Regions from separate parts of the Homo sapiens genome. Here regions 2, 3 and 4 are each linked to region 1. Evidence: fine-mapped expression QTL. A gene starts in region 1. Each other region holds a variant in brackets. All regions are shown on one strand. Distances are from middle to middle.

Region 1 (5,000 bases):
ATTCCTATATGGGACGCAATTAGCTAGTTAGTGCTCAGAGGCACTGTGCCCTCTAGCGAGGCCTGCCTTCTCTGGGACACCTCAGTCCCCACTCAGCTGCTGCCTGTACTTGTTACTTGCCTGTTCTCTGTGAGCTCTTGAGTTTACAGCCCTGCCTCATACAGCCTTAGATTATATTCATCAGCCCCTGTAAAACCCAAATTTTTCCTCCTTCTCTAGGTAAATTACCTACACAAAATAAGGTATCAAGGAAATGTCCAATGGAGTAATGGATCACACCACCATAAGCCACAGTATAATTCCAGTTCCTCAATCTTGAGGCTATTTCCCTCCTCCTTCTTAACAAATAACTGATAGTCTCTATTATAATTCCCTCAGAAAAGACCCAAAATGTTCCTCTCCCTCTTCAATCTTTATCCATAATGTCTCCTGCCTCCCCCCCAGATGGCGCCGTCTAACCCTGAGTGTCTCAAAATGAACCACAGTACACCCTTTGAGTTCCCAAGATTCTAATTAACCCAAATTAGAATCCTTATTTCAAAATCCACAATTCCCTCCACTCTCTCAATACAGTATTATTAAAACCTCTTCTCTTGGTCAATAGAATATGGCTATTTTAAGCTGCTGAAATTTTCCATCTGCAATGGAAATGTGTACATTATGGCAATAATAGAATTACTAAAATGAATCAAGTAAATTTTGAAAAGTTAAAGTCTATTTTACCATATTTGATAACTACACAGCACCTGAAAATCAAGTAACAACTTTCAGACGAAATTTGGGGTGGGGAGGCAACAAAGGAAATCAGCGTGATGGGAAAATAATGTAGTTAAGGACAAAGTGCATAAGTATTAGTCATAGAATTTAACAATACTTCTCATTAATCACAAAATTTAGAAAAATGATAATATTATTTAATTTTTAAGCAGAAGTGTACTGCCCATATCTCTGGGAACATAAAAGAAAAGCAATATAGAGTTTTAACATTTAAAAAGTCAGGTTCTCTGTAATGGTATTATTTCTCTTAATTGAATCAAGCAAAGATAGTCCAGAAAGCAAAGACAGATATGGTCATTTTAGAAAACGGAACTAAGTAGACAAAGAACAGCTTTTAAAAAGTTTAACTACCTAATAATAATAATTCATAATGTTGAAAAGCTACTGATGTCAAATTGCCACAAACATTCTGCTAGTTCATTAGTGAAAAGGTGGGGGGGGGTGTCAAAACCTCTGGATAAAGGAAATCAGCAATATAAACAGAAAATCAAATGCTACCAATTGCCTAGGCATGTCTGGACTTGTTTTATGAAAGCTCACTTTCACTTGAGGAAATTCTAGCATGTGTCTCCCCCAGTGTTATCTACAGGTTTCCCTCAAAATAAAGATCCTTCTCAAAGAACAGAGGCACAAAAGGCCTCCTACCAGAGGTGACAGTTACCTGATTTAAAGAAAAAATTCTTGCCAAACACAGATTTACCCATTATCACATTTGATCTTTACAATTTTTAAAGAGTAGCTTGATATCCCAAATTTATTTCTTGTTATATTTAACAATCAACACAATGTCGACTCCTCAAAAAAATCTATGTATGACAATTGCATCAAATATTAGTACATTTGCAAACAAAAATTAGTATAAAATATAAATCTTAAAATGAATAAAACCAAGTCTTCAGTGAATGCATGAATGATGGAATACAGAGACCCAAAACATGCAACTCAGATCTGTTCAACTGTTGCATTGGTTTAAAAGGGACTAATTTGAAGACTGGCATAAATATTCTTCAAATCTTAAAAACCAGTCACTTTGATGCTTGCGATGGCATAAATGAAGGATTTATGCTGGTTAATGTCCTGGTTTGGAAAGGAGCTAAGACGACATTAAAGAAAATCAAAGCTTCACAAGGTACCCTGTTTAAAGAAAATTAATTGTCATAGCATACTTAGTTTTAATGATTGGACTGGGGCCTACTCTTCACATACTGTGTTAAAGACAATCTCTTGTCTCATTTGGAGAAATCTACAGAGGAAAGAGAATAGAATAAAGGAACAGGTTAGGAGCACCTCAGCAAACTAGGTAAGTCTGTAATTGGGAATTCTGGAAATGAGGGAAAGGCAGCGAGCATTACTCAGAGGTCATCAGAACGCAGCAAGAAGGAATGAGAGGGAGAAAAGTTAAAAAAAATAATAATAATAATCACTTGAGGCAAGGTGTATCCTATAAAGAAGGCTCAAAAGAACGCAGAAAACTGGGGAAGAGGCCTTGGTGAATTGGCGAATGTTTTTCAGTCTCCGCTGTGACGGTTCCTAATCCTAGAGAACTGTTTACAGATTTGAATCAAAGCTACAGACAGTTCAGCGTCGCCCACATCCACCTTACATTCCTAAGATGTGCATGCATACACACGAACCCACACACGCACCTCAACCCGGTATGGATGCCATCACGAAGGATGGAATCCCCCGACTCCCACGGGGCGGGGGCAACTGAGAGGGCCAAGGCAGCTGCACGCACAGATGATCCACCTGGTCCACGTGAAATGCCTGAAACAAGCAAACTGATAAATAGAAGCAGCGCAAGCCCTGTCACGTGGAGGGCAGATGGAAAGAGCATCGGAAAGGAACCGCTAGTCCCCGGCGCTCCAGGGGCTCGTCCTGAAAGCTCCGCGGCTCCCAATCGCCCGCACTTACCGGAACCCCCGGGACGCGCCGGCAGTCTCCGCGCCGCGTCCGCCCGGGACGCCCGCGACGCCCGCCCTGCGCGCCCGGCTCGGCCCAGCTCGACCCAGCCTCTTCTCGGAGCAACTTTCTCCGCCGGCCGCCGCCGAGCCCCCTCCGCAGCCGAAGGCTGACTGTCAAAAGTCAGTCCAACCCGACCCACAGGGAAACAGCTGCAGGAAGTGACTGCGGAACCGGGAGGCGGTGGAGGAGGAGACTGAGGGCGCCGGCTCGGCGTCGCCACTGCGCATGTGCTTGGCGGAGCAGGCCCGGCAGCGGTGGCAGCGGTAGCAGTGGCGGCTCCCGCATCCCCGGCGGGCGGCGCGTGGGTCAGGTGCCCTGGCCGCGAGCGCAGGGGCGCGGGGTTAGGCCGGCGTGGGGAACAAAGGCACGAGTGAGAGGCGGGAGGGTCCCGCCGCCAATCTCAGCAGACAGCCCCGAAGAGCAGTTCAGCAGATGCCCTGGAAAGTTAATCCTTGGTAGAAGCCTGGGCAGAGCTTTTGCAACTTTCATCTCCAGTCATTGGGATCCAAACATTGTTCATTCTGTTCCTCCCTTAGCCTGCTGGTTGGCGGTTAAGGCGGCTGAGTGGATCCTTTAAACTGCTGCAACAGAACCTTTAAACTGCTGCTCTCCCCACTTCCGCCCCAGGATGGAGGAAGAAGAGCGTGGCTGCCTGCCCAGTATCGGCCTCCCTCACACAAAACGCCCCCACCCACCCACACACACACCTTCCCTCCCCTACACGAAAGTGAGCAGGAGATAGAGGAGACTTTCTCCTGACCCCCAGAGGCTCACCTGCAAGACAGGAAGGACCAGGAAAAGAGTGGCCAACGCTAGGATGTCACATCCTTCATAACCAACCTGGACATCTTCAATGTTAACACTGAGTGATGAGCTGAGGAAATTCCGGCTCTAAACTTATAGCGTAAATTAACTCGTATGAAGATCTGCTGGGGTATTATTTTTGTGTGTGGCAAACGATAACAAATATACTACTTTAAGAGTACAGGCCGGGCGCGGTGGCTCACGCCTGTAATCCCAACACTTTGGGAGGCCGAGGCGGGTGGATCACGGGGTCAGGAGATCGAGACCATCCTGGCTAACACGGTGAAACCCAATCTCTACTAAAAATACAAAAATATTAGCCAGGCGTGGTGGTGGGCGCCTGTAGTCCCAGCTACTCGGGAGGCTGAGGCAGGAGAATGGCGTGAACCCGGGAGGCGGAGCTTGCAGTGAGCCGAGATCGCGCCGCTGCACTCCAGCCTGGGTGACAGAGCGAGACTCCGTCTCAAAAAAAAAAAAAAAAAAAGTACAGTTCAGTGGCATTAAGTACATTTGCATTATTGTGTGGTTATTTTTTAAAACACGAATTAAAATGCCAAGGAGATCTAAGTATAGTAAGATGTGCCCTATTAGTAGGGAAACAACTGCAGGAAATCAAGGCTGTTTCTTTGGCTGAAAAATGCACCAATCCAATACCAACAACAACAAACCATAAAAGACTTCATAAGTACAATGAATATGAAGTACAAACATATACACACAGTGTACACCAGCCATTTGGGGAGAGTAATCCATCACCTGAATTGTTTTTCCAGCTGTATAGGTACATTTACTTTATGTGTCACTATTTTAAAGGGCTATATTGTTTCTAAAATAATAAATGCTGCTAAAATCCACTCTCCAGCCCCTTTTCTATATGGTCTTTAGCCAGTCTTAGAACTTCACAGTCCACACTCCTTATCTAGGACCACAAGTAGGCCTTGCGGAGCCTTTCCGATCTGACCTTCCACCAGTCTCCCCTCATCATTTCACTCACACCCCCATCCATGCCCCTTCATTTCCTGCCTCTGTAATTTAGCTCTGTCTGCATCTTGAATACAAAATGCTTTCTCTCCCCTCCCCTTGAATTGTCAAATCCTACCTGTCCTTCCAGGCCTCTTCTTTCATGAGGTCCCACAGCACTTTTCTCCGCACACCTTGATGACACACTATTTGTTGTCCCACATTATAATTACTTAAGAGATATTTCCTCTGCCCTGTAAATACCTTGAGTCCAGGAAGGATAAATGTCTTGGAGTTTTCAAGTTTTATGTTTGATAGTTTGATGTGTTCTTGTCCATCAGGATGAAAATCTGAACAATTCCATGTTCTCTGCTCACATACTCTTCTCAGACAGCTAGGGCATTTCCTTCCCTGCCTCGGGGAGAAAGAAAAGGCAAATCTGATGCTTGTGTAATAGATATTTGAAGCTCATGGCAGTGACAGTAGTCTCATAA
Region 2 (5,000 bases), 49 kb before region 1:
ATACTGCAAAGTTTTTTCAACTTTGATATATGTCTGAAAATTTTCTTGAGAAAATGTTGAGGAACATGTTAACATTTCTATAATAAAATCAGTCTAGCAGGGCGTTTCTAAGATTCTAAGTAGTCAGGCAATTTAGAATTTTAAATTAATTAAACTAGGGAAAATTTTGCTTTTAATGGCTTCAAACCTGATTTGTGAAGATGCTTCATTTAATATAGAAATGAACTAACACAATTAATAATTATTGTGCCAGTCTCTTCGCTTTAGCTGCAAATACATAATTTTTCCCCTCTCTACAGAAGACAAGTTTGAAAATGACCACTAGAATAAAGAATTTTTCCAAACATCAGTGTCAAGCTCTTCCAATCAACCACACTGCCATTCACTAAGTACAAACGCAACACAGATCAAGGTGAAAAATGATCTCTGACTTCTGCCAGCTTGGGAAAACTGGATTCATTTTCAGAATGTATGGTTTCTGATCAATAATGACAATAGTTTTACTTGATATCAAATTGACATTTATTTAAAAAAGGGAAAAAAAAGACGTAGAACAGAATTCACACAGACCTTTGTTATTCCAAGCTCCTATTTATGAATGGTGATTAATAGCAATAATTCTGTCTCTCTTCTCTCTGTGAAATGCTAACACTTGCTAAAGGCACTCAGATTCTGGGCTTAACGGAGACAAGGTCACATGGGACCATAAGCCAGTACGTTTTTTGGTAGCTACCCAGAAAGGAAGTTTACAAATGTTCCTCCCATTCATAACGGGAAGAAAAAGTCAAACAGCTATCAGTAGAAGCGTTTTATGAGAAGCTATTTACACAGCTATTTGTCCATTCAGCCAGAGTGACAGTAACTGCTCACAATGGTAGGGGTTCTCCCCTGCCAAGAAAGCAAAAACAATAACAAAACACTTTTTATCATATATGAAACTCCTGTACAATGATTTGGCTAGAAGAAAAAAATAGTTGGTAAGGTCAAATTTGTTTTAAAACATCTGTTCAAAAGCCTGCATTAAACTTTTATCTGTCCTGACAAAACATGTCTCAATTTCTTTCTAAAGCAGCTCTATTGTCCTAGCATATGCCTCACCAAGTTCTTTAAAGGGCATTTCCAACCTTAGTTCTGACAATGAAGACACAAAGTAGGTTAGGTTCCAAAACCACCCTTCCTAGCCCTCCCTGTAGAAAATACCATGTTGCACAGTTACATGTGTCCCCTGACACAAACGACACTCATTTTACGTAGGTCACTGGACCTCAAACTGTTGTTGCTTGCTGTCCCAGCCAATTCAAGAGTGAAGGAAGATGTAACCAGACATACATATCTCCCTTTCTCCCTGTTCAAACTGTAGATAGGTAGCTATAAGCAAGCATATAGTTCTGTAGAAAAGCTTTCTAAAATGAGGTGGAAGATCTCGTGCTTCTTGTTAGCTTTTTAAGTCAGGGGAATGTAAGGATGATGTCAAATAGCCACGATTCTTCTTTTAAACTCAGGGCTTCAAAAATCCTACCTGGTTTTCTAAGTTTACCAACTAATTAAAAGGTCAGTGAAGAAGAGTTGGAGGAGGAACTTTTTCCAAATAAATGGTATAAAAAAATTATTCACCTTGCAGAATTTAGTGCAATAAGAGACAGGCAGACAAACATAAACAACATGCACATATTTACAAGTTGCAGGACATGATGCACAATGTGAAGACCAACAAAGTATTTTCAAAGCATCTTCAGTGCACTCAAAAGGATTACAGGGCACACTCAGTTTAGTAACTGAACTTTTTTTACAAAACCACTTCAAAGGTATATGCAATCCAATCTTTTAGTTGAAACACGAATTTTCTTTCTTTACAACTTCTTACCCTCAATACCTAAGAAGAATTCTAATTGTCATCTTCTAACGTTGATTTTTTATGACAACTTACACAAAGATATTATTCACAGAGAAAAGAGACTGATGCTATGAGTTCCTATGGATGATTACCGAAATCTAAGTATTTTTTTTTCTAATTTTTGTTGTTGTTGTGGTTTAGGCCTCTGTCCATCCTTGAAGACAGCATAGAAAAGGACACTAACATAATTCCTGGGGAGCACAAGGTGCAAATCCTAAAGTATGTTACAGAGACAGACTGAGCTTCACAAAATGAAACCAACGAAGATCACATATCACTGACTCAGAAGAAACAACAGTCTGCTTAAACAGAGAAAAAACACTGTTTATGGAATACATGAATATGAGAAATTGTACCATGCAGAGATGTATCTATTTAGGCATTTCCTGCCTGATAACCTCTGTCACCCTTTGTTTTCACCTATGGAACAGAGAAGAATACTGCAAGGTAACAAGCTCAAAACATAACCTACTGTCATAGAGATTTGTGATTTTTTTTCAGATGTGCATGTAACTTTTACAAGTGATCATGGAAGTTATTTATCAACTTCCCAGAGTTTGGAATTTAAGGAGCAAACTGAGTTATTGTAGGCAATACGGTACTAAAGTGTCCTATAAAACAAACACATAGCTCTTTTTTAGTGCAAAGAAATATAGCAAGTAAGAAATAACACTATAAATCTAACTTCTTTCTTTAAAAGAAAATGTGCTTATGCATTCATAACATCCATTAAGGGCACTGGGAAACTGGAAACCTGAATCCACAAGGCCTGAAAAAACATCAAGCCCTTAAGTCGGCTGCTTTTTCTACGTATATAATGAAATTGTTAAGTGGAGAGAGCAAGGGGAACCCTTCTTATAAAACTATTTCCAATGGAAAACAAAGTGGATGAATGACATTTTTACAAAATATAAATTCATGTTCGTATCTTCTACTGTTATTTGAAATAAGGGTTGAAATACCTCTCTATGACAACATATATGTACGTGTGTGTGTGGGGGTATGCATACACACACATCTACCTATGGAGGAAAAAAACTAGATTTTTAGGTAATCATAGAACCAAGCGGCCAGCACTATAATGTTAAAATTAACCAAAAAATTATATTTAGCAGCAAAATGAATAACCTACTGGCCAATAAGAAAAGCCCTAAATTGCTCAAAACTAAGCAACTCTACTTTATAGATTACTGAAAAAA[T/A]AATAATAATAATAATAATAAAAGGGTTATTATACTAAGAGTCACAGGTCTAGATAGAATCCTAACAGAATAGTATTTGATTCTTCTGTTTCTGGGAGAAGAAAAGTTACAAAATAATTCTACTTCTCAAAGAACCACCACTTCAAGAGAAGACAGTAACTGGATACTATACAAGGGTTAATCACACAAAACTCGTTTTTAAACATGGGTCTGAGTTGTTTAAAAATTGTCCCAAAGTATTACAGAAGAAGAATGATTGTAATTTGCCTTCCCCAATTTTTTTTGCCTACAGAATTATCAAGAAAAAATAGAAGTTTTACCTCTAATTAGTAATACAAGCAATCAAATGTGAACTGACCATTGTGCAAACATACTGCTTAAAATATAAACTTCCTGATCAAGTGGGCTTTCAAAAGAAATACGGATGACCACTGGTCTTACCCATATAAAATATAGTAAATAGATAAAATGTAGTTAATGAATATTCACAGAGCACTCCATTAGTTAATCTAGATATATATTATAGCTTCTTTTTTTTTTTTTTTGGAGACGGAGTATTGCTCTGTCGCCCAGACTGGAGTGCAGTGGCACGATTCTTGGCTGACTGCAACCTCCACCTCCTGGGTTCATACAACTTCTTATTTTAAACGCAAAAAAACAAAAATAATAATACTGATATAATTATCAGATGCCAAAGTGATCTATCATATACTTGTTAGTATCTTCAAGAAAGCCGAATTACAAAGAATAAAACCATAGTTCGTGTATATTTCTACTGGAAACGAAGATAGTGAAACTTTATTTGCTTTTTAAAAAATTCCTCTGTGTATAAAACAGCAGGTGGTGATATTTTTCAGGATGGCCACCAGACTGGCAAGACAGAGGAAAATGTAAGTAAACCGTAAGAATCAGATTATCAAAAAAGTCTGGCAAAACAAAATATCAAGCAATCTGAACTTATGGTTTAGATCATGATATAAGCGCATGTTACTATCAATGAAGTAACTCTAAATTGGAAAATCAAACACACCTTTGTTTCCTAAAAACTGCTGGAAAATATATCTATATATATATATATTTTTTTTTTTTTTTTTTTTTTTTTTTTGAGACGGAGTCTCGCTCTGTCACCCAGGCTGGAGTGCAGTGGCGCGATCTCGGCTCACTGCAAGCTCCGCCTCCCGGGTTCACGCCATTCTCCTGCCTCAGCCTCCAGAGTAGCTGGGACTACAGGCACCCACCACCACGCCCGGCTAATGTTTTGTATTTTTAGTAGAGATGGGGTTTCACTGTGTTAGCCAGGATGATCTCGACCTCCTGACCTCGTGATCCGCCTGCTTCGGCCTCCCAAAGTGCTGGGATTACAGGCGTGAGCCACCGCGCCCGGCCCTATTTTTTGAAATCATATCCATCTTAAACTCATTGAATATTCAAATATGAGGCTTGGAAAACCCACAGCACAGCTGGGGCATGAAAATGGGCTTGTTAGACAAGCTGATTCAACTAGGGGGGAAAAAAGAGGAGGGAAGAAGGCGGCAATTATATGTGTGAAATCCACAACTGGAAATCAAGTTTAGCTGTTTGGAAGTATACAAGCTCATTGGGAGTATTTGAATTCAAGAAAATTTGCGCTTCAATGATGGGGAGACATGATACAGAAAAAAAAATGTCCTGGGAAAGACCCTAACAGTTTCTAATAATGTATCCTACTGACAATGCATTGAGGTGGCGGTTCTGGTTAAGCCCTGGGAAACTGAAATCTCTGCTGACCTATTTTTACTTTGATCTAAAAAGAATTCAATACAATTCTTTAACAGTACATAAAACTACAATTGCAAAAGAAAATGGCAGAAAAAAATGTCCCGGGAAAGACCTTAACAGTTTCTAATAATGTATTCTACTGACAATGC
Region 3 (5,000 bases), 36 kb before region 1:
AAGGCGGAAGGCGGCAGGGCCCTCTGCCTAGGAAAACCAGAGACCTCTGTTCACGTGTTTATCTGCTGACCTTCCCTCCACTATTGTCCTATGACCCTGCCAAATCCCCCTCTCCGAGAAACACCCAAGAATGATCAATAAATACTAAAAAAATTTTAAAAAAAAGGAAAGAAAGAAAAGAAAAGAAAAGAATATGGGATTTTAGGAAAAAAAAAAAAGAAGTATCACATTTTCCAGTGACTTATGTCCTCACCCAACTTCTTGCCATTTATATGCCACAGATAAATATGAATTTCATGACACTCTGATCTAATGTACTTTATAAGTTAGTAATGAAATGGATAATCCAATTATTCTTTTAAAATTGCCCTTACAGAGTATCTTTTTACTTACAAAGGATGTTCATTGCATTTATTCATTTGCTGCTCACAAAAATCTTGTAAGAGGAATTTGTTAATATTGTCCATTTATGACAGCCAAGGAACTGCAATCCAGAGACTGTAAGGAGCTTGCCCCCAGCTCCCTTCTCAAGGGCTAAATAGCACAGCCAAAGCCTGAGACAGGCCTTCCAAATCAAAGAATGGCCCTTTTCCACTACAGCATGATGGCTTCAAGATGCACTAGGAACCTCTACTAACATCAACTTGCCTTTCTCATCACGTTTTATTAGTCACATGATTATATTCCTTGAACTGACACAAACTAGTGGCAAGGGTCAATAGTACAAAAGCATTCTAAATAAGGGTAAAACAGTATATTATTCTTTAAACTGCATTGTAAAACTCAAACCTGCAGGCAAACATTTATTCACCATCTATTTATATGCTAAGCCCTAGAAATAAACTAAGGACTAGCACATAGAGGAGGAGACAGATACCTAAGCAGCTAAATAGAGTAATGAACTAAGATCCATCTTCTCCTCACTTCAATACCCTAAAGGTGCTTTTACCATGGTCACAGTGAACTCCAGAGTCAAATCCAGTGGTCACATATGTGCCTTCATCTTACTGGAACTCAAAGTAGCATGACACAGTTCATTTCCTTCTTGAAACATTCCTCCTACTATCATCTATACTCCTTCTTCCCTCCCCACCTCTCCTCCTCTATCAGACCTCTAAACTCTACAATGTCCAAGGACGCACCCTTAGCCCTCTTTTATTCTCTGACTCTAGGTTATTCTACCCAGACCTATAGCTTTCAAATACCATGAGTAAGTTGGTGACTCCCCAAATCATCAATCTCCATCTTTGACCTTCAGAACCACATATCCAGCTTCCTCCTGGTCATCCATACTTTCACGTCTTAAGAGGCATATCCAACTTAAAACAACTTTTGATTCCTCCTCCATAGAACTTTCTCATCACCACCATCACCACCACCACTAGTCATCCACAGTAGGTAAATGGCACCACCATCCACAAAATTACCCAAGAAAAGCCAAGGGGTCCTTTTCCTGATTCCATCCTTCCCTAAGCCCAACACATTCAACCCATCAGCAAGTCTTGTCATTCAAAATACATCCCACATCACTCCACTTCTCTCCATGGATACTACAAATACCACAGTAATCCAAGGTACCAACATTTTTCATTTGCAGTAGGTAACAGTGGTCATTTGCAGTAGGTAACAACTCCTAATTGGTCTCTGCTGTTAATCTTGTCCTCCTAGAATTCTCCTCATTATAAACCCAAGTAATAATTCTTGACATGAATCAGTTCCATGTCACTCCCTCACATAAAACTCTTCCAATGGCTTTCTGCTATACTTAAAATTGACAAATCTTACCTATAAGGCCCTACACGATCTGGCCCTGTCTAACTGACAAATCTCACCTATAAGGCCCTACATGTTCTGGCCCCATCTAATTGACAAATCTTACCTATAAGGCCCTACATGATCTGGCCCCGTCTATCTCTTGGGCCTTATGTCAGACAGCACTCCTTCCTTTCCCCTGCTCATTATGCTCCTGGCTCACTAGGCTGCATGTGCTCCTTAAACATGCCAAGCT[C/T]AGGCTAGCTCCAAGGCCTTTGTACTTAACTGTTCCTTTTGCCTAGAATGTACCTCTTGCAGATCTCTGTATGGATTGCTCCTTCTAATCTTTCAAGTCTCAACTCAAACTGGACCTCACTCACTCTCAAGTGTCACAACCACTCCCCCTCTCCACACCACACACACTCCATCATATTACCACACTGGCCGGTTTTATTTTATCTTAGTATCACTAATCACTATCTAAAATAATATAGTTTGTTGACTTGTTTTTTTTTCTCTTTCCTCCGCTCTGTAATGTAGACTTCTTGAAAATGAGGACCTCATCTGTCTTGTTTACTGTTCTAATCCCAATGCCTAGAATAGTTTCCAGAATATAGCAAGCAAGCAATAAATAACTGTTGGATAAATGAACCAAGTATTATAATGAAGATAATAAACTGCTAGGAGAACACAGAGAAGGAATTTCTTACTCCTGCCTGAATGTATCACGGAAGACTTCCCTGAAAAGGGGGCAACTGACTCATCTTTTTAAATGAGCAAATGTTTACAGGGGAGGTAAGCAATACGGAAAAAGAAAACTGTGCACCAAGAAAATAGCATGAGCAAAAGCCCAGCCTTCTGTGTTGAGGGGCTACAAGGAGAGATAACGGTCTTCTAGATCCTTTGGAGGAGAGGCAAAAATTGAAATACACAGGGGGCTCATTCTTAATGCCTTTGCCCATGATAAAGAACTTGGACTTCAGAGGCAGCAGGGAGCCTCTGAGGAACTTTAAGCAAAGCAGTGCATGACTTGATTGTATTTGATAAAGATGAGCATCAGGGTAGCAGACCAAAGCTGGAAGCTGGGAAGATACACAGAGGAGAGTCAAGGACAAAATCCTAGACACTACAACATAGAGTCTAGTAGAGAATGAAGATCCAGAAAATGAGATTGACAAGGTCTAGCCAAAAAGTAAGATAAAAATCAGATAGTATGTTATCATAGAAGCCCACAACCAAACTGGAGTTCAAGAGTGTGGTCAGGATGAAGACAGACTCTCAGGAATGATCTGAATGTGGATGGTATTTAAAGCTATGGAGCCAAAAACTATCACCTAGACAGAGTGGAGACAGATAACAGCTTGCAAAATGGGCCTCAAGCAAGATAATGGCTAGATAAAGGAGAAAGACGCAGGAACTATGAAGAAGGTAAGAACAAGTAATAGCATATTGGATAAGAGGGTAGAAGGGAGGTGAACCGCAGGGTAGATGGAAATATTTATGAAAAATTTTTAAAGGTGTGGGGAGGAAAAAAGGCTTTGGGGAAGAAGATAGAGTCAACAATCTCAATCTCAATATGAGATTGAGACAACCGAAAGACATCTTAATGAATCCAAGAGACAGTGCAATGTGTGGCTTAGTGACAGCAACTGGAGACAGACAAATTCCTAGGCAGACAGGGATGGGTCCCTGTGAAACCCAACCTCATGCCAAAGACAGTTTAAAGACTGAAAACTGAGCTGCCAGTTGCAGGTGGAGTCCACAACGAGAGTGAGAACTTCCTCGATGCCTTTTAGGCAATCAAATGGTGCTTTTTCCAAGCCGACCCGTGAACCAATCAGCACGCACTCCCCCATTCTGAGCCCATAAAAATCCCAGACTCAACCCCACAGATGGCAAACCTCTTTTGGGTCCCCTCTCACACACAGGGCTAATCACTCTTGGGCCCCCTCTCTGCTGAGAGCTTTCCTTCTATTGCTCAATGAAATTCTTCTCCACCCTATTCACTCTCCAGTGTCCATGTACCTTATTCCTCTTATTCCTCTTGGTCGCAGGAGAAGAACCCAGAATAGGCCAACCTGTAACACACACCCATTCACTGAGCTGCGGGTGGTGGGACCGACTGAGCTGTAACATGCCCCTGTTCGCCAAGCTGCAGGTGGCAGGAACAATACAAAGCTGCAACATTTCTTGGGAGGTCAAATCTTGGGACTCCCCGGATGAGAGCTGTAACACCCCTTGGGACTCTGCCATTACTGACATCTCTGAGTTTTCGGGCACCACCCACATTCCCCTCATCTAGACAACGACACCCAATGCAGAAGCTGCTGGCAACACACCCAGTGGAGCCATGGGCTGAGTGCAGATCCCTCAGCGGGCGCAGGATCCAGGCCAAGGCACAAGCCGAGCACAGCCTGCCAGGCTGAGTGGGCGGAGTGAGCTCGGTGGAATGAGGCCCCAGGCAGAGGACACAGCACCCACAGAGATTTCCGGCTGGTGAAGCAGCACCAAAGGAATCCTTACACTGCAACCCTCCCTCCTGCTCACTGAGCAACGGGGAAAAAAAGCCAGTGTGCCATTTCCTCCCGCTTGCTGAACTACAAAAGCTGCAACATTAGCACTAAGGAAGTCAAGGCTAAGAAGGTTTAGAAGTCTTCTAAAAACAGGTGAGAATTTGAATCTACAACTCTGGCGGAAGATAACAGGGTTAAATAGTTACTGACTACCCTCTATGTTCTGGCAACCATTCTAAGAAAAGGAGATAAAACAGTGAACAAAGGCAAAGTCTCTGCCCTCAAGAAGCTTTTCTAGGGGACATAAACAGAATATATACATGTACATATATATATGTACACACACACAACCAAAGAAAAAAGAGTTACTGACAACTGCTCTGCAAAAAATAAAACAGGATGATATAATAGATAATGGACAGGGAGAGAGTGGGGTGGGCCGACAAGGCTTTTCTGGGGAGATACATGTCAGCTAAAAGCTGAAGCATGAGATGGCTCCAGCCATGCAATGTAGAGAAAGGGGGAAGAGCTGGGCATCAAGAGACCCACTTGCTGTGTTAAGTCTGAGATCCCTTTCAGATGTCCAAAGAGAGACCAACCTGGAGTTTACGAACGAGGTCAGGTTAGAGATAGAATCTGAGGAGTTATCAGTATGTAGGTGGAATTTAAAACCATGGAACTAGGGCCAGGCACAGTGGCTCATGCCTATAATCCCAGCACTTTGGGAGGCTGAGG
Region 4 (5,000 bases), 21 kb before region 1:
TTCTTTAACACCCCCAAAAGATCACCTTAGCTCACCAGCAGTGGATCCAAACCAAGGTGAAATATCTGAATTGCCAGAAAAAGAATTCAGAAGGTCAACTACTAATCCAATCAAGGAGGCACCAGGCCGAGCGTGGTGGCTCACGCCTGTAATCCCAGCACTTTGGGAGGCTGAGGCAGGCAGATCACCTGAGGTCAGGAGTTCAAGACCAGCCTGACCAACATGGTGAAACCCAATCTCTACTAAAAATACAAAAAAAAAAAATAGCCGGATGTGGTGGTGCTCGCCTATAGTCTCAGCTACTCAGGAGGCTGAAGCAGGAGAATCACTTCAGTCCGGGAGGCAAAGGTTGCAGTGAGCTGAGATCATGTGACTGCACTCCAGCCTGGGTGACAGAGTAAGACTCAGTCTCAAAAAAAAAAGGAGGCACCAGAGAAAGGTGAAGTCCAACTTAAATAAATCAAAAAATAATACAGGTATGAATGGAAAATGTTCAGTGAAATAGATAGCATAAATAAAAAACAATCACAACTTCTGGAAATGAAGGACACGCTCAGAGAAATGCAAAATGCACTGAAAAGTCTCAGCAATAGAGTCGGACAAGTAGAAGAACTTCAGAGCTCAAATATAAGGCTTTTGAATTAACCCAAATTGATAAAGACAAAGAAAAAAGAATTTTTAAAAAATGAACAAAGCCTCGAAGAAGTTTGAGATTACGATAAACGACCAAACCTAAGAATAATTGCTGTTCCTGAGGAAGAAGAGAAATCTAAAAGTTTGCAAAACATATTTGAGGGAATAATTGAGGAAAACTTCCTCAGCCTTGCTAGAGATCTAGACATCCGAATACAAGAAGCTCAAAGAACACCTAGGAAATTCATTGCAAAAAGATCATCGCCTAGGCATACAGTCATCAGGTTACCTAAAGTCAAGATGAAAGAAAGAATCTTAAGAGCTGTGAGGCAAAAGCATCAGGTAACCTATAAAGGAAAACCTATCAGATTAACAGCAGATGTCTCAGCCGAAACCCTACAAGCTAGAAGGGACTGGGGTCCTATCTTTAGCCTTCTTAAACAAAACAATTATCAGCCAAGAACTTTGTATCCAGTGAAACTAAGCTGCATAAATGAAGGAAAGATACTGTCTTTGTCAGACAAAAAACTTCTGAGAGAATTTGCCACTACCAAGCCAGCATTACAAGAACTACTAAAAGGAGTTCTAAATCTTGAAACAAATCCTCCAAATACACAAAAATAGGAAATCCTTAAAGCATAAATCTCACAGGACCTATAAAATAACACAATGGAAAAAAACCCAAGGTATTCAGGCAAAAAAAAAAAAAAAACAGCACAATGAACAAAATAGTACTTCACATGTCAATATTAACATTGAATGCAAATTGCCTAAATTCTCCACTTAAAATATTCCAAATGGCAAAACGGATAAGAATTCACCAACCAAGTATCTGCTATCTTCAAGAGACTCGTGATACATAAGGACTCACATAAACTTAAGGTAACAGGGTGAAAAAAGATATTCTATGCAAATGGACAACAAAAGTGAGCAGGAGTAGCTATTCTTATTTGAGACAAAATAAACTTCAAAGCAACAGCAGTTAAAAAAGACAAAGAGGGACATAATACAATAATAAAAGGACTAGTCCAAAAGGAAAACATCACAATCCTAAATATATATGCACCTAATACTGGAGCTTCCAAACTTATAAAACAATTACTACTAGACCTAACAAATGAGATAGACAGCAATACAATAATTGTGGGGGACTTCAATACTCCACTGACAGCACTAGACAGGTCTTTAAGACAGAAAGTCAACAAAGAAACAATAAACTATACGTTACAATAAATGCACTTCACAGATATTTACAGAGGATCCTACCCAACAACTGCAGAATATACATTCTATTCATCAGCACATGGAACATTCTTCAAGGTAGACCATATGATAGCCACAAAACAAGTCTCAACAAATTTAAGAAAATCGAACTTATAGCAAGTACTTTCTCAGACCACAGTGGAATAAAATTGGAAATCAACTCCAAAAGAAACCCTCAAAACCATGCGAATACATGGAAATTAAATAACCTGCTCCTGAATGATTGTTGGGTCAACAATAAAATCAAGATGGAAATTAAAAAATTATTTGAACTGAACGATAATAGTGATACAACCTATGAAAACCTCTGTGATACAGCAAAGGCAGTGCTAATAGCATTAACTGCCTACATCAAAAAGTTTGAAAGGGGCTGGGCATGGTTGCTCATGCCTGTAATCCCAGCACTTTGGGAGGCCAAGGCAGGCGGATCACGAGGTCAAGAGATCAAGACCATCCTGGCTAACATGGTGAAACCACGTCTCTACTAAAAATACAAAAAATTAGCTGGGCGTGGTGGTGGGCGCCTGTAGTCTCAGCTACTCGGGAGGCTGAGGCAGGAGAATGGCATGAACCTGGGAGGCAGAGCTGGCAGTAAGACAAGATCGCGCCACTGCACTCTAGTCTGGGTGACAGAGCAAGACTCCGTCTCAAAAAAAAAAAAAAAAAAAAAAAAAAGCCAAGCCTAAAAGAACACAAATAGACAATGTAAGGTCACACCTCACAGAACTGGAGAAACAAAACAATCCAAACCCAAACCCAGCAGAAGAAAAGAAATAGTCAAGATCAGAACAGAACTAAATGAAATTGAAACAAAAAAAATACAAAAGATTAAGTGAAACAAAAGGTTGGTTTTTTGACAAGATAAATAAAACTAATAAAC[A/G]ATTATTGAGGTTAGCCAAGAAAATAAGAGAGAAAATCCAAATAAGCTCAATTAGAAATGAAATGGGAGATATTACAACAAATACCACAGAAATACAAAAAATCATTCAAGGCTATTATGAACACCTTTATGTGCATAAACTAGAAAACCTAAAGGAGATGGGTAGAAATATACAACCCTCCTAGATTAAACCAAGAATACATAGAAACTGAACAGACCAATAACAAGCAGCAAGATTGCAATGGTAATTAAAAAGTTACCAACAAAAAAAAAAGTCCAAGACCAGAAAGATGCACAGCTGAATTCTATCAGACATTCAAAGAAGAACTGGTACCAATCCTACTGACACTACTCCAAAAGACAAAGAAATAGGGAATCCTCCCGAAATCATTCTATGAAGTCCATATCACCCTAACACCAAAACCAGGAAAGGATATTCCAAATAAAAGAAAACTACAGACCAATATCCCTGATGAACACAGATGCAAAAATCCTCAACAAAATACTAGCTAAGCAAATCCAACAGCATATCAAAAAGATAATCCACCATGATCAAGTGGGTTTCACACCAGGGATTTAGGGATGGTTTTACATCTAGGGATGGTTTAACATCCTCAAGTCAATAAATGTGATACACTACATAAAAGAATTAAAAACAAAAATCATATGATCACCTCAATAGACACAGAAAAAGCATTTGACAAAATCTAGCATCCCTTTATGGTTAAAACCCTCAGCAAAATCAGCATAGAAGAAACACACCTTAAGGTAATAAAAGCCATCTATGACAAACCCACAGCCAACATTATACTGAATGCGGAAAAGTTGAAAGCATTCCCCCTGAGAACTGGAGCAAGACAAGGATGCCCACTTTCACCACTTCTATTCACCCTAGTACTGGAAGTCCTAGCCAGAGCAATCAGACAAGAGAAAGAAATAAAGGGCATCCAAATCAATAAAGAGGAAGTCAAACTGTCACTGTTTGCTAATGAAAATGATTGTGTATCTAGAAAACCCTAAAGACTTATCCAAAAAGCTTCTGGTACTGGTAAATGAATTCAGCAAAGTTTTAGGATACAAAATTAATATATACAAATCAGTAGCTCTGCTATACACCACTATACACCAACAGCTACCAAGCAGAGAATCAAATCAAGAACTCAGCCCCTTTTACAATACCTACAAAAAAAATAAAATAAAATACATAGGAATATACTTAACCAAAGAGCTGAAAGACCTCTACAAAGAAAAGTACAAAACACTGCTGAAAGAAATAACAGATGACACAAACAAATGGAAACACAAACCATGCTCATGATGGGTAGAATCAGTGTTGTGAAAATGACCACACTGCAAAAAGCAATCCACAAATTCAATGCAATTCCCATCAAAATACCATCATCAAATTCAATGCAATTCTCATCAAAATACCATCATCATTCTTCACAGAACTAGAAAAAAATTTATATGGAACCAAAAAAGAGCCTGCATAGCCAAAGCAAGACTAAGCAAAAAGAACAAATCTAGAGGTCTTACATTACCTGACTTCAAACTATAGCATACGGCTACAGTCACCAAAACAGCATGGTACTGGTATAAAAACAGGCATTTAGACCAATAAAACAGAATAGAGAACCCAGAAATAAAGCCAAATACTTACGGTCAACTGATCTTCAACAAAACAAACAAAAACATAAAGTGGGGAAAGGACACTCTATTGAACAAATGGTGCTGAGATAATTGGCAAGTCGCACGTAGAATAACGAAACTGGATCCTCATCTCTCACCTTATACAAAAATCAACTAGAGATGGATCAAAGACTTAAATCTAAAACCTGAAACCATAAAAATTCTAGAACATTGGAAAAACTCTTCTAGACATTGACTTAAGCAAAGACTTCAACAAGATAAAGATAAATAGATGAGATTTAATTAAACTAAAAAGCTTCTGCACAGCAAAAGAAATAATCAGCAGAGTAAACAGACAACCCATAGAGTAGGAGAAAATTTTTGCAATCTACACATCCAACAAAGAACTAATATCCAGTCTACAAGGAATTCAAACAAATCAGCAACAAAAAACAAACAATACCATCAAAAAGTGGCCTAAGGCCATGAATAGACAATTCTCAAAAGAAGATATACAAATGGGCAATAAACATATGAAAAAAATGCTCAACATCACTAATTATCAGAGAAATGTAAATCGAAACTACAACATGAT

Evidence for each region. PIP is the estimated chance that this variant, and not a neighbour inherited with it, causes the effect. A credible set is the group of variants that fine-mapping cannot tell apart.
Region 2: its variant is the best candidate, but not a certain one, in a credible set for the expression of ZMAT3 in CD4 T cells (CEDAR, PIP 0.57).
Region 3: its variant is the best candidate, but not a certain one, in a credible set for the expression of ZMAT3 in spleen (GTEx, PIP 0.85).
Region 4: its variant is the best candidate, but not a certain one, in a credible set for the expression of ZMAT3 in B cells (Fairfax 2012, PIP 0.88).

What each region holds. Positions count from the first base shown.
Region 1 is chr3:179,068,904-179,073,903 of GRCh38, forward strand. ZMAT3 (zinc finger matrin-type 3) reads right to left here and starts at 2,906. Exons shown (of 6, transcript NM_022470.4): 1 at 2,692-2,906. RefSeq lists silencers at 2,633-2,782, 2,923-3,332.
Region 2 is chr3:179,019,541-179,024,540 of GRCh38, forward strand. It overlaps ZMAT3 (zinc finger matrin-type 3), which reads right to left. Exons shown (of 6, transcript NM_022470.4): 6 at 1-5,000. Among named protein-coding and RNA genes, the nearest start is that of ZMAT3, 50 kb to the right of the region's middle. The variant T/A (reference allele first, on the strand shown) is at 3,094.
Region 3 is chr3:179,033,351-179,038,350 of GRCh38, forward strand. All of the region lies in intron 2 of ZMAT3 (zinc finger matrin-type 3), which reads right to left. Among named protein-coding and RNA genes, the nearest start is that of ZMAT3, 36 kb to the right of the region's middle. The variant C/T (reference allele first, on the strand shown) is at 2,009.
Region 4 is chr3:179,047,447-179,052,446 of GRCh38, forward strand. The region is part of intron 2 of ZMAT3 (zinc finger matrin-type 3); the gene reads right to left. Among named protein-coding and RNA genes, the nearest start is that of ZMAT3, 22 kb to the right of the region's middle. The variant A/G (reference allele first, on the strand shown) is at 2,777.